Homo sapiens: one gene and its partners. The protein of the gene in region 2 interacts with the protein of the main gene of each other region in a biochemical or structural test. Each region holds a gene or a part of one and is shown on either strand. Other genes may lie near its edges. The genes, in order: HDAC5, ATF3 and HDAC4.

What was found.
Region 1: the proteins of ATF3 (region 2) and HDAC5 form a complex in vitro, tested with the Homo sapiens proteins (one study listed by BioGRID).
Region 3: the proteins of ATF3 (region 2) and HDAC4 form a complex in vitro, tested with the Homo sapiens proteins (one study listed by BioGRID).

The regions. Positions count from the first base shown.
Region 1 is NC_000017.11:44,078,613-44,082,260, forward strand, and holds part of HDAC5 (histone deacetylase 5), read right to left. Parts: intron 2,271-3,648; coding exon 2,151-2,270; intron 1,887-2,150; coding exon 1,789-1,886; intron 1,614-1,788; coding exon 1,495-1,613; intron 666-1,494; coding exon 532-665; intron 268-531; coding exon 183-267; intron 54-182; coding exon 1-53. UniProt on the Homo sapiens protein: Responsible for the deacetylation of lysine residues on the N-terminal part of the core histones (H2A, H2B, H3 and H4).
Region 2 is NC_000001.11:212,615,181-212,618,828, reverse strand, and holds part of ATF3 (cyclic AMP-dependent transcription factor ATF-3), read right to left. Parts: coding exon 3,568-3,648; intron 703-3,567; coding exon 595-702; intron 1-594.
Region 3 is NC_000002.12:239,047,964-239,051,611, forward strand, and holds the end of HDAC4 (histone deacetylase 4), read right to left. Parts: 3' UTR 205-3,648; downstream 1-204. UniProt on the Homo sapiens protein: Responsible for the deacetylation of lysine residues on the N-terminal part of the core histones (H2A, H2B, H3 and H4).

The DNA of each region.
Region 1 (3,648 bases), on a different chromosome or scaffold from region 2:
CAGGGACCGGCCCAGACCAGCGGCGAACTTCTGCACACAGCTCCAGTGTTTGCCTGTGGACGAGAGACAGGCAAGGGGTCAGGGAGGGCAGAGGACACCCACATGAACAGTCCCAGTCCTGGTGCTCCCACAAGCTCCGTGCCCCCTTGGCAGCCTGAGCCCCTCTACGTGTCCTCACGCACTCTGGATCTCGATGACTTTCTCTAGCGTGGCCACTGCGTTGATGTTGGGCTTTTGCTGCAAGACTGCCTCATCCAAGGGCTGCAGCTGGCAGGGGAAAGAAGAGAAGGCTTAGGGTGGGGAGTAGGGTTGCCATGCATACCCCTCTAACTGCCCCACTCAGCCCCAGATATCCCTCACAACAGGGGCAAACATGGCCTTTTTGGACAAACGCATACTCAGAAAGCCTGGCCATTAGCTGTTCCTTAGGACCAAGGAAAAGCTTCCTAAGGGGCTCCCAGTGCTGGCTGACCCCTTGCTGGCCCCTCAGACCTCTGGCCTGCCACCTCCCAGCTCCTTCCCACCCCTTACCTCTACACTGAGCAGAGCCGAGACACAAGCCTCAGAGGCATCACAGATGGCGGTCAAGTCATGGCCTCCCTCCAGGGCCAGCACCACCCGGCCCCCTGCCAGGGTCATCAGCTGCCTGGTCAAGTGGCCAAAACCTTTGAGGATGGGTGAAGGGAGGAAGAAGAAATGGCGAAAGGTAATCAATCAATTCAAGAGCCAGTAAGAGGAGAGAAAAAAGGCCAGGCGCGGTGGCTCACGCCTGTAATCCCAGCACTTTGGGAGGCCAAGGCGGGCAGATCACAAGGTCAGGAGTTCGAGACCAGCCTGACCAACATGGTGAAACCCCGTCTCTACTAAAAATACAATAATTAGCCGGCCATGGTGGCACGCGCCTGTAATCCCAGCTACTTGGGAGGCTGAGGCAGGAGGATGGCATGAACCCAGGAGGCGGAGGTTGCAGTGAGCCGAGATCACGCCATTGCACTCCAGCCTGGGTGACAGAGTGAGACTCCACCTCAAAAAAAAAAAAAAAAAAAAAGAAAGAAAAGGAGAGAAAAAGAAACACAAGAGGTGGGACAAATAGCACAAAATGTGATGGGAGATATAAACCCAAATATATCCATAATAAAATACAGCATCAGTGAACTAAATGCCCTATCACAGTCAAAACATTAACAGACTGGCTGAAGACTCCAATCCAATGACAAGGAGCATCACTGAAACACCAGGGACCAACAAGCCCATCTCTACAGCTCCGGCAGGATACATCCTCTATCCTCTGCTACCCCACTGCCACCTCCTATCCCCTCAAGGCCGGGGTTGGCAGAGGACAAGTTGGGGGAGTTACCAAGATGATTCCAAGTCTAGGCCCTGCCCCCTGCTTTCCCCGTCTGCTGCAATATCAGTCTGTTCCCTGCCCCATGCCTCACTGGACTCGATATCCTCACTGTTTCACTTCCTCCCTCAATCCCCCAGCAGGCTTACATCTGGCGGTGACAGAGTAGCCACCCAGAGGAGACAGATGTCCTTCAACAGCATCAAACCCGGCGGAGACTAGGACCACATCAGGTGAGAACTCGTGGGCAATGGGCATCACCACTGTCCTGCAAAGGGATGGCTCAAGCTGAGCCCGGCAGATGACCAGGCCAGGCCTCGCCCCACTGTTATCCTCCCAGAGACAACCCCCTCTACCCACACTGAACTGAGTGCCTTCTGCCCCTCCCACTGCAGGGCCCAGAGGGGCTCCCACTGACTACCATGGCCCTTTTCAGTCCCTACCTGAAGGCTGTAAGGTACTCCACGTCTCCAATGGGGGGGTCCACACCTCCTGTCCATGCCACGTTCACATTGTACCCCACGCCTGGTCCTCCACCAACCTGGCACCAGAGTTGGGGAGAGGGCTATTCTCACCACCTGGGAGTCCCAAACATTGCCCCTGCCCTCACCCCTGCCTCCAGATCTCACTCCACTGACCTCTGCTCTGCCTGGAGGGGCAGTCAGATCAGTGTGGTCCTCCCACTAGGAGCCCAGACTCCCCAGGTACCAACACCACCATGGGCCTCCGTGGCTCCCCGCCAGGTCCCATTGTGCCACCTCCCAGAGGGGCCAGGAGGGTCTGCATTTACGCCCAGGAGCTGTACCTCTTCAGGAGCCCCAGAGCCTGGAAAGAAGTTCCCGTTGTCATAGCGATGCAGAGAGATGTAGAGCACAGAGGGGTCATTGTAGAACGCCTGCTGGGTGCCATTGCCATGGTGAATGTCCTATGAGGGGAGGTAGAAGCATCGGGAAAATGGCCCGCGCTCTGACCCAATGGTCAAATTCCACCTGTCAGCTGAGCACTGTAGCTCATGCCTGTAATCCTAGCATTTTGGGAGGCTGAGGGCTGGGAGGATCGCTTGAGCCCAGGACTCCACCCTTGGCCACAGGGCATCCATATTCTGTTCACAATGGTATTGCACACCCCACACTTCTCTAACTAGGTCTGAGCCTCTGTGGGGTGGCACTGTGTAGGTGATATTCAAAACCATGGGATAAATGTGGCATATCTCCCTACAGAACCCATTCCACCTCACAGTTTTGGGGAAAACATTAAGGCTAGTAGGGAATTTAAAACAGGCAGATGAGATTCTTTCTTTTTTTTTTTTGAGACCAAGTTTCACTCTTGTTGCCCAGGCTAGAGTGCAGTGGCACGATCTGGGCTCACTGCAACCTCCACCTCCCGGGTTCAAGCGATTCTCCTGCCTCAGCCTCCCGAGTAGCTGGGATTACAGGCGCCCACCACTATGCCCGGCCAATTTTTTTTGTATTTTTAGTAGAGATGGGGTTTCACCATGTTGGCCAGGCTGGTCTCAAACTCCTGACCTCAGGTGATCCACCCACCTCGGCCTCTCAAAGTGCTGGGATTACAGGCATGAGTCACTGTACCCGGCCTTTTTTGTTTTCCTTTTTCTTTTCTTTCTTTTTTTTTTTTTTTTGAGACAGAATCTCACTCTGTCATCGAGGCTGGAGTGCAGTGGCATGATCTTGACTCACTGCAACCTCCACTTCCCAGGTTCAAGGAATTCTCCTGCCTCAGCCTCCCCAATAGGTGGGATTACAGGCTCCCGCCACCACACCTAACTAATTTTTTTGAATTTTCAGTGGAGACAGGGTTTCACCATGTTGGCCATCCTGGTCTCGAACTCCTGACCCCAAGTGATTCACCCACCTTGGCCTCCCAAAATGCTGGGATTACAGGCTTTGAGCCATTGTGCCCAACCACAAGCACGTAAGATTCTGAAGGAGGATCCAACATTTACATGAATTTTTAAGCCAGAATTGGGCTTCCAAGAGATTTTGTCCTTCCTGAGGCTTGGTCCTGGCTACTTCCCCAGCTCACAGAGAGTGGTGTGTGCCTCTGCCTCCACCATTAGGAGCAGGGTTTGGGAAGCACCCATGGTAGCAAGAGCAGAGTGCTGGGGCCAAAAGCCTTGGTCTGAAACCCAGTGCCGACATCCCCAGCTGAGTGGCCTTGGGTAAGTCACGCAACAACACCTTTGTTCACAGAAATGGACATCCTCGTTCTTACTACTCGAGGTGGCCATAAAGTACTCATTGTGTTCCTGGTATACAGTCTGCTCCTAATTGTAGGGGGTGGGA
Region 2 (3,648 bases):
TGGAAAGACTGCTGAGCACCACCGGCCACCCTGCTTGCCCACAAAAGCTATTTCCCCTAGTGTCTCTCAGGCGGGCCGGCTGAACGCAGCCAGGGGCTCAGCTTACTGGCTAAGCCAGGGAGAAGGGCTCTAGAGTTAGGAACCAGACAAGAATGCAAAGCAAGTGTAACCACTGCTTGTGGATTAAGGAAATAACTTGTTTGAAGAGATTAATTAAAGGCTTTTCATAGTGAGCCAAATGAGAGCTGGCAGCTTCCTTTTCTCAGGAAAACAGTCAAGTGAAGCCTCTTTAACTGGGCTGGCATGTCCTGCAGCCTGGAAGCTGATGGACATGTATGAACCGGCCGAGGCTGCTGGGAGTCAGGCATCAGACGAATTCACACACCTGTTTTTATACATCCACCGTCACATCCATTGTGTTAACTGCTTTGCCACCTCCTCATTCTGCAACTGGCATTTCTGCTACCAGCTACAAGGCCCTTCTTGGGAAACTATAACCAAGTAGGGGGTTTTCTAACTCTTCTTCTGATAGCCACATGAAGCTGGTGAAGACAGGCGTGAGCGAGAGGAAGGGTAAGGCTAGAAGGCACTCACTTTCTGCAGGCACTCCGTCTTCTCCTTCTTCTTGTTTCGGCACTTTGCAGCTGCAATCTTATTTCTTTCTCGTCGCCTCTTTTTCCTTTCATCTTCTTCAGGGGCTACCTGTAAAATCCAAAAGAAACACATTTAAAGGGCAGTAAGAAATGCCACCTACCTCAAATACACTGCCTTTTACTGCCAGCAAAAGCTGGCAGACAAGGGCAATGCTAGCGCTAAAAGACCCCGAAATACTAAAGCTCTAGACTTTTGTGTGAAAACCCCTACACACACACACACACACACGCACACACACACACGTGAGTGAACAACAAAAATCAAAGTTAAAATTATACCGGCAATATATTAGTAAATTAAAAGTTAGCCAATTTTAAAAATGCATTTGGATTTTGAGATGAGGATAATATGCAAATTGATAACTATTGGTATTAACTATAATCATTTAAAGCCGAAACAGATTCTGTCTGGTAAACATCTCCTTTCTTTGAGAACCAGGAATGATCTCAGGATCATTACCTAGCCACCCACTCCCGGCCTCTTCTTCAATTCAAGACCCAAGGGCAACCCCATTCACCTCTGACTTCACCTGGAGCATCAGAGCACCAGCTTCCCAAATTTGGGAGAAGCCCATGATGCTCCTGTAGAAAAGGCACCTAAGCCCATTCCCAACCAAAGCGGCATTAATCGGCCCATGCTGGGGTGCCACCTGCAAGTGGTGAACTAGGACAGTCTTTTAGGTCAGTCCCACTACTCCTTGCCCAAAGGCTGCAATCATGCCAGTTGAGTAAGCCTGAAACACTTCCACTTGCCACCATGAGGAAAAGGCCAATAAAATGGTGGAACCTCAGCTCTGACATCCTTAAGCCACTATGGCATCGCCAGAAGCCACCTCCCAGACTTCTCACCATGTTTATTATTCCAGGAGTCTTACCCAAGGTTGCCAAGCGTGGAACAGTGCAAGTGTGTCAGACAGAAGTGAACCTGGAGCAACACCTGGTCCCAAGGCTGTGAACATTGCTACAGGGAAGGGTGGGGCAGGCTGCCTGGTCCTTGCTCTACTGTCTGGGTGCTTGGGTCCTAGTAGTGATAAAAACAGGGACCACCACGCTCCAAGCTTCTTCAGAACAACTGGACACAGAAGGTGGCCTCATCCTGACTCATGGCTTTAAGTGCCATCTATATGCCGATAATTTCCAACTCTATTATCTCTAGCCCAGACTGTCCTCTGAACTCCAGACTCACATATCCAACTGCCTGCTTGACATCTCCACAGGGGTCTGCAGAATAGGACAGACCTCCTGCTCTTGCCACCACCCTAACCCCTATAATCCCAAATCTCAGCAGCAAATGGACGCTCCATTCTTACAGCTATGCTGGCCAGAAAACTCAGTCACCCTTGAGTCTTCCCTTTCTCTTACACCCCACATCCAATCTATCAGCAAATCAGCTTTACCTTCAAGTCAGATCCAAAGCCAACCACTTCTCAGCACCTGCACTGCTCCCTCCTGCTGCAGGCCCCCTGACTCACGTGGATTCCTGCCACGGCCTCCTTTCTGTGCACTCAGCTTCTGTCTTACCCCTACTGCCCATTCTCAACATGACAGCCAGGGTGATCATTTAAAAATATAAATCAAGGCTGGGCGTGGTGGCTCACACCTGTAATCCCAGCACTTTGGGAGGCCGAGGCGGGCGGATTACCTGAGGTCAGGAGTTCGAGACCAGCCTGGCCAACATGGAGAAACCCCGTCTCTACTAAAAAAATTCAAAAATTAGCCAGACGTGTGGCGGGCACCTGTAATCCCAGCTATTTGGAAGACTGAGGCATGAGAATCCCTTGAACCTGGGAGGCAGAGGTTGCAGTGAGCCAAGATCATGCCACTGCACTCCAGTCTGGGTGACAGAACAAGACTCTGTCTCAAAAAAAAAAGTGTGTGTGTGTATCTGTGTGTGTGTGTGTGTGTTGAATCTTGTTGCTTCTCTGCTCAAAAGCCTTCTGTGGTTTCCCACCTCACTTTGAGCCCAGGGCTGCATCTATACAATAATAATCTGTAAGACCCAATATGACCAGCCCCTATTTATCTCCCACCCCTATACTCTGCCCCACTGCACAGCCCACCAGGCACCAATACTTCCACCTCAGTGCCCTTAATTTCTTTTACCAGATACCCACGTGGCTTCTTCCCTCTCCTCTTTCCTTCTTCCTTTCCTTTTGACCTCTGCTCAAAAGTCACTATCAGTGAATCCTTACCTGACTTCCTAATTTAAAACAGCAACCCCGGCTGGGTGCAATGGCTCATCCCTGTGATCCCAGTGTTTTGGGAGGCTGAAGCAGGAGGATCGCTTGAGCCCAGGAGACTGAGGCTACAATGAGCCGTGATCACCCCACTGCACCCCAGCCTGGGTGATGGAGCAACACTGTCTCTAAAAGCAAAATGAGTCTTGCTCCATCACCCAGGCTGGAGTGCAGTGAGGTGATCACGGCTCATTGCAGCCTCAACCTCCTGGGCTCAAGCGGTCCTCCCACCTCAGCCTCGCAAGTAGATGAGACTATAGGCCATGTACCACCTTGCCCAGCTAATACTGTCATAGAGATTGGGTTTCATTGTGTTGCCCAGGCTGGTCTCAAACTCCTGGACTCAAGCGATAATCCCATCTTGGCCTCTCAAAGTGCTGGGATTATAAGCGTGGGCCACCATGCCTGGCCTGAAAAGTTTTTAAACCCAGCAACCCCATCCCTACCCGTTCTCTCTGCCCCGCTCCCTGCTTTTTTCTCCTTTGCACTCATCTCTTAACGTGTACTTACGTATGTTATGTACTTCTGTCTCCTCCCAGGAGAAGGTAAGCTCCCTGAGGGCAGTGGTTTTGTTTGTTTCACTCTCAACAACAGCCCCCTGCCTAGAACATGCCCAACACACAGTGGCTGCGAGCGAAACATGTGCCGAAAGAATGAATACCTGTGATAGAACCCACCTCGGCTTTTGTGATGGACACCCCGAGGGGTCTGTCGCTGACAGTGACTGATTCCAGCGCAGAGGACATCCGGTGGCAGAG
Region 3 (3,648 bases), on a different chromosome or scaffold from region 2:
ATGAAGACACTCCTATGGGACCTGATTATGCAGGCAGAGGGGGACGGGCCTGCCGCTGGTCTGGGTCTAGGGGCCGTCCCCATGGGGTCCAGTGATTCCCATGCAGCCATCCGGATGGGACCCAGGGCACTGGCCATTCGGCCCACAGGGTCCCAGACATGCGAGAGCCAATGAGGAAGAGAGCGCACGGGCAGAAACCAGAGCTGGGAGGGCAAGTAACGCAGTCTTTATTTACACCACAAGATAACACGTTGCGTGATGTGGTACAGAATACTGGACTCCAGTGAAGTGGAAAGAAGGTGACCGTCAGAAGAGGATATCATTGGTCGGTGAAAATCCACCCACACAAAACAAGACAAGAATGAGAAAACCAAACACAAAACCTCCAACTCCACTGAGCAAAAGAAAGAACCATCGGGCACGTCCAGACAATCCAAGAGAAACGGATTAAATTACAGAGGTGAATGGTGGCCACGGCCAGTGCGCAGCTCACGGCGGGCGCGAACAGGCATCAGGTAGGTTACAGTGTCGTTACAACTTGGTTTTCTACCACATTCCGTAAGAAGCTCTTGGGTGAGTAAGGTTCAAGCCCCCTGTATAGATAGATAGATAGATAGATAGATAGATAGATTATATATGTTTGTCATTCTCATCAATTGGAAAATAGCGCCTCCACTATGGAGCACACACGGCAAAAAAAACAAACAAAAACTGTTCGCTTTCTTTTTCTTTCAATAGCAGACTTTTAATCAATGCCAGAGACAAAGTGAGGCCGAGCTAAGAACACGCTCAGCTTCGTTACAATGAAGAAATGGTTTCCTTTCGATGCAAAGTATAATTGTAAACCACAGTGCTCGCACAGTTCACGACTGCTTAAAGTGAAATCTTAGCCATACATCACCTAAAAGTAATTAAAAAGTCAACACAGCTGTGCGGAAAAGGGGACTCTTTCGAGTCCGCCCAGTTCTCAATCAGAATAAACCGTCACAAGGCCAGTGAGGGCGGGCGGCGCTCGCCTGGCCCGTGGAAGGAGATAAAAGGAAACAAACAAAACAAAACAAAACAAAATTCCTCCAAATCAACTCGAGAGAGACAGGCAGTTCACTGTGAATTCTGAGTAGTTTCCCTAAAACACTGTTTCCACATAAATACAATAAACTCTATTATTGGTATGTCACAAGTGCTAGATAAACTTTTTTTCTTAATATGACAAATGTTTAAGTAGTCCTTTTTATTTTTCTTACAATAAAAAGTACAATTTCTTAAGAATAAGTTCAATAAGACGCAAACTTCCCCGCCCTCCTCTCCTTCAAGGTTTTGTTTTACAGAAAAATTTCCATCTTTTGTATCTGCAAATGTCATGAGAGGGGAACAGAAAGGCATTTTTCTTCTTCCCCAAAGCTGCCGAGTTTGGCGTGCAAAATCTGTATACAATATAAAGTCATGCCGGTCGTACAGTCCATGCAACCTCCAGGTGTAGGAAACTTAAAAAAATATATTCATATATATTTATATCTATATATTTATATATGTATCAATGCCCATAAAACACGTGGGCCCAAAGTCTACAAAAAGAAGAATGGAATGAGCACGTGGCTGTGACCAGTAAAGAAGGAATGTTCTGATCAAAAAGAAAAACAACAAAGTCCATTGCTAGTGCTGCAAAAATCAAACTTGCTTTTGTGTCAGACCATTACGAAATGGTCCTTCCCCTTGCAAACAGATTTTCAAAAGAAGTAAAGAAAAACTGAAACACCTTGACAAAGTGGCCCTCCAGAACCAGAGCCCTGGGACGCTGGGGAGGGGCGGCCAGTCCCAGCGGGCCACGGCCTCCGGGACAGCCGCCTGCTGGTGGGGCGTGGGCACGTGGGCACGCTGCGGCACGGCGGGAAGCCGCGAGGGCAGGGCAGACGCCAAGAGGCCCAGTGGCGTCATCAGGGTTTCCCTCAAAGGGATATAAAGTGCTCGCTTGCTGACTCCCAGCCAGTGCCCCCAAGGCCTTTGCAAAGGAAGAAAAAGGCTAAAGGTCCAAGGACCCACAGGGAGAACACATGAAGGAACCCTCCCTGACGTGGTCCCGCCTGCAGACGCCGAGGCAGATCCTCTGCCATCTGCCCTGGACGCTTGCTGTGGAGAAGAGCCGAGTGTGTCTTCAAAGAAAAGGCTACACAGTAATGCTCTCAGCACATTTGTGAAGCTGGAGTGAGCTGACAGATGAAACGTGCCTCCCCCTGCCAGGCCTTTGCAGAGGGCGTCTCCATTTGAATGAGATTAGAATTAAGTCCCCCCACTGATAACCTGGCCACTGAGCAGTCCATGTTATCCCATCATCTGCTTAAAAAAAAAAAGTGAGATGATGCATTCCTCCCCATAAGCCACGGCGGGGTAAGAGGGCAGGTGGCAGGATCCCCAGAGGGCTATGCAGAGAATGAGGCCAAGGAGGCCAGAAGAGCCTGCTAGCTGGGCCCTGCCACTGCTCTGTGCCATGAATGGGGAATGGACCAGCTCCTCTTGCCAATCTGGGCTTCAGAGCAAAGAGTGGCCACCAGGGAGGGGAAAGTCAAACAAGTCCCAAGACCGTTCTGCCTGCTCTCAAACCACTGTCTCAGAGCTGACCATCAGCAGCCCAGTGACCAAGTGAATCCAAGAATCTGCACTCATTTGGTCAAAAGTTTGAGTTAATTTCAGAAGCTACCCTGTAAACTTTACCAAACTCCGAAACTCGGCTCTGGGTCCCTCCTGAGCACGGTGTGTCTGAACTTCTGCCCCCAAGTCTGAACCCAATATACACTTTGGAATGAAACTGGTGGCTTCATGTGCTGGAAAATAAGTTACCAGTAAAACGTGACTGTCAGTTACTGTTGAAGAGAAAAAGAGTAAAGACTGGCTGTCCTGGTCAGGCAATCATACCCTCCCTGCAGGTTCACCAGGCAACAAGGGTCCCTGGGTTCCTTGCAGCCACAGGCTCCAAAATCCAGGGCTGGCCACGTGGCTGCAGTGGAAAAACCCAAGTGGGTAAAGAGCCCCACGTGTGCCCCATGCATTGCTGACATGCTCAAAAGGTCTTTGGAAAACTCAAGTTAGAATTCTATCCTGACGATGTGGTCAGAGAAGTTTAAACATGAGTTTCATTAATGCTGACTGCCCCCGGCATCTGGCAAGCCTCCCAGGGTGGCCGGGCATCCTAAGCAACCCTCCCTGCCCTTGCCACGGAGGGGAAAAACACACCACCCCTCGTAATACTACTAGTGTTGAAAGTTAAAAAGAGCCCCTGGGCTTCTTTATACAGCTCCTAGGACAGACCAGGAAAGACACAATCGTTGGTGTCACTCCGAAAAGACCTACGGTCCCTCCTCTCACTTTCTGAAAATAGAATCTGACAGCAACAATTCTGTACGCTGCAGAAAACTCATCGTACAAAAATAAAAACAAAAATAATTAAAAACCTTTGAAAGGTAAAAAAAAATGTACAAGCAAGAATTCAGAAAGGAAAAAGATTTAGACATTATTACCATTCAGAAAATTGCTAAATGGTGAGGAAAAATGTAAAATTCATAAAACAATGCTTATTCAGGATCTTTTTGTGAAAAAATTCATACAAAAATCAACAGCAAATTTATATTCTTTGCTATAAAAACTCATTAGGTA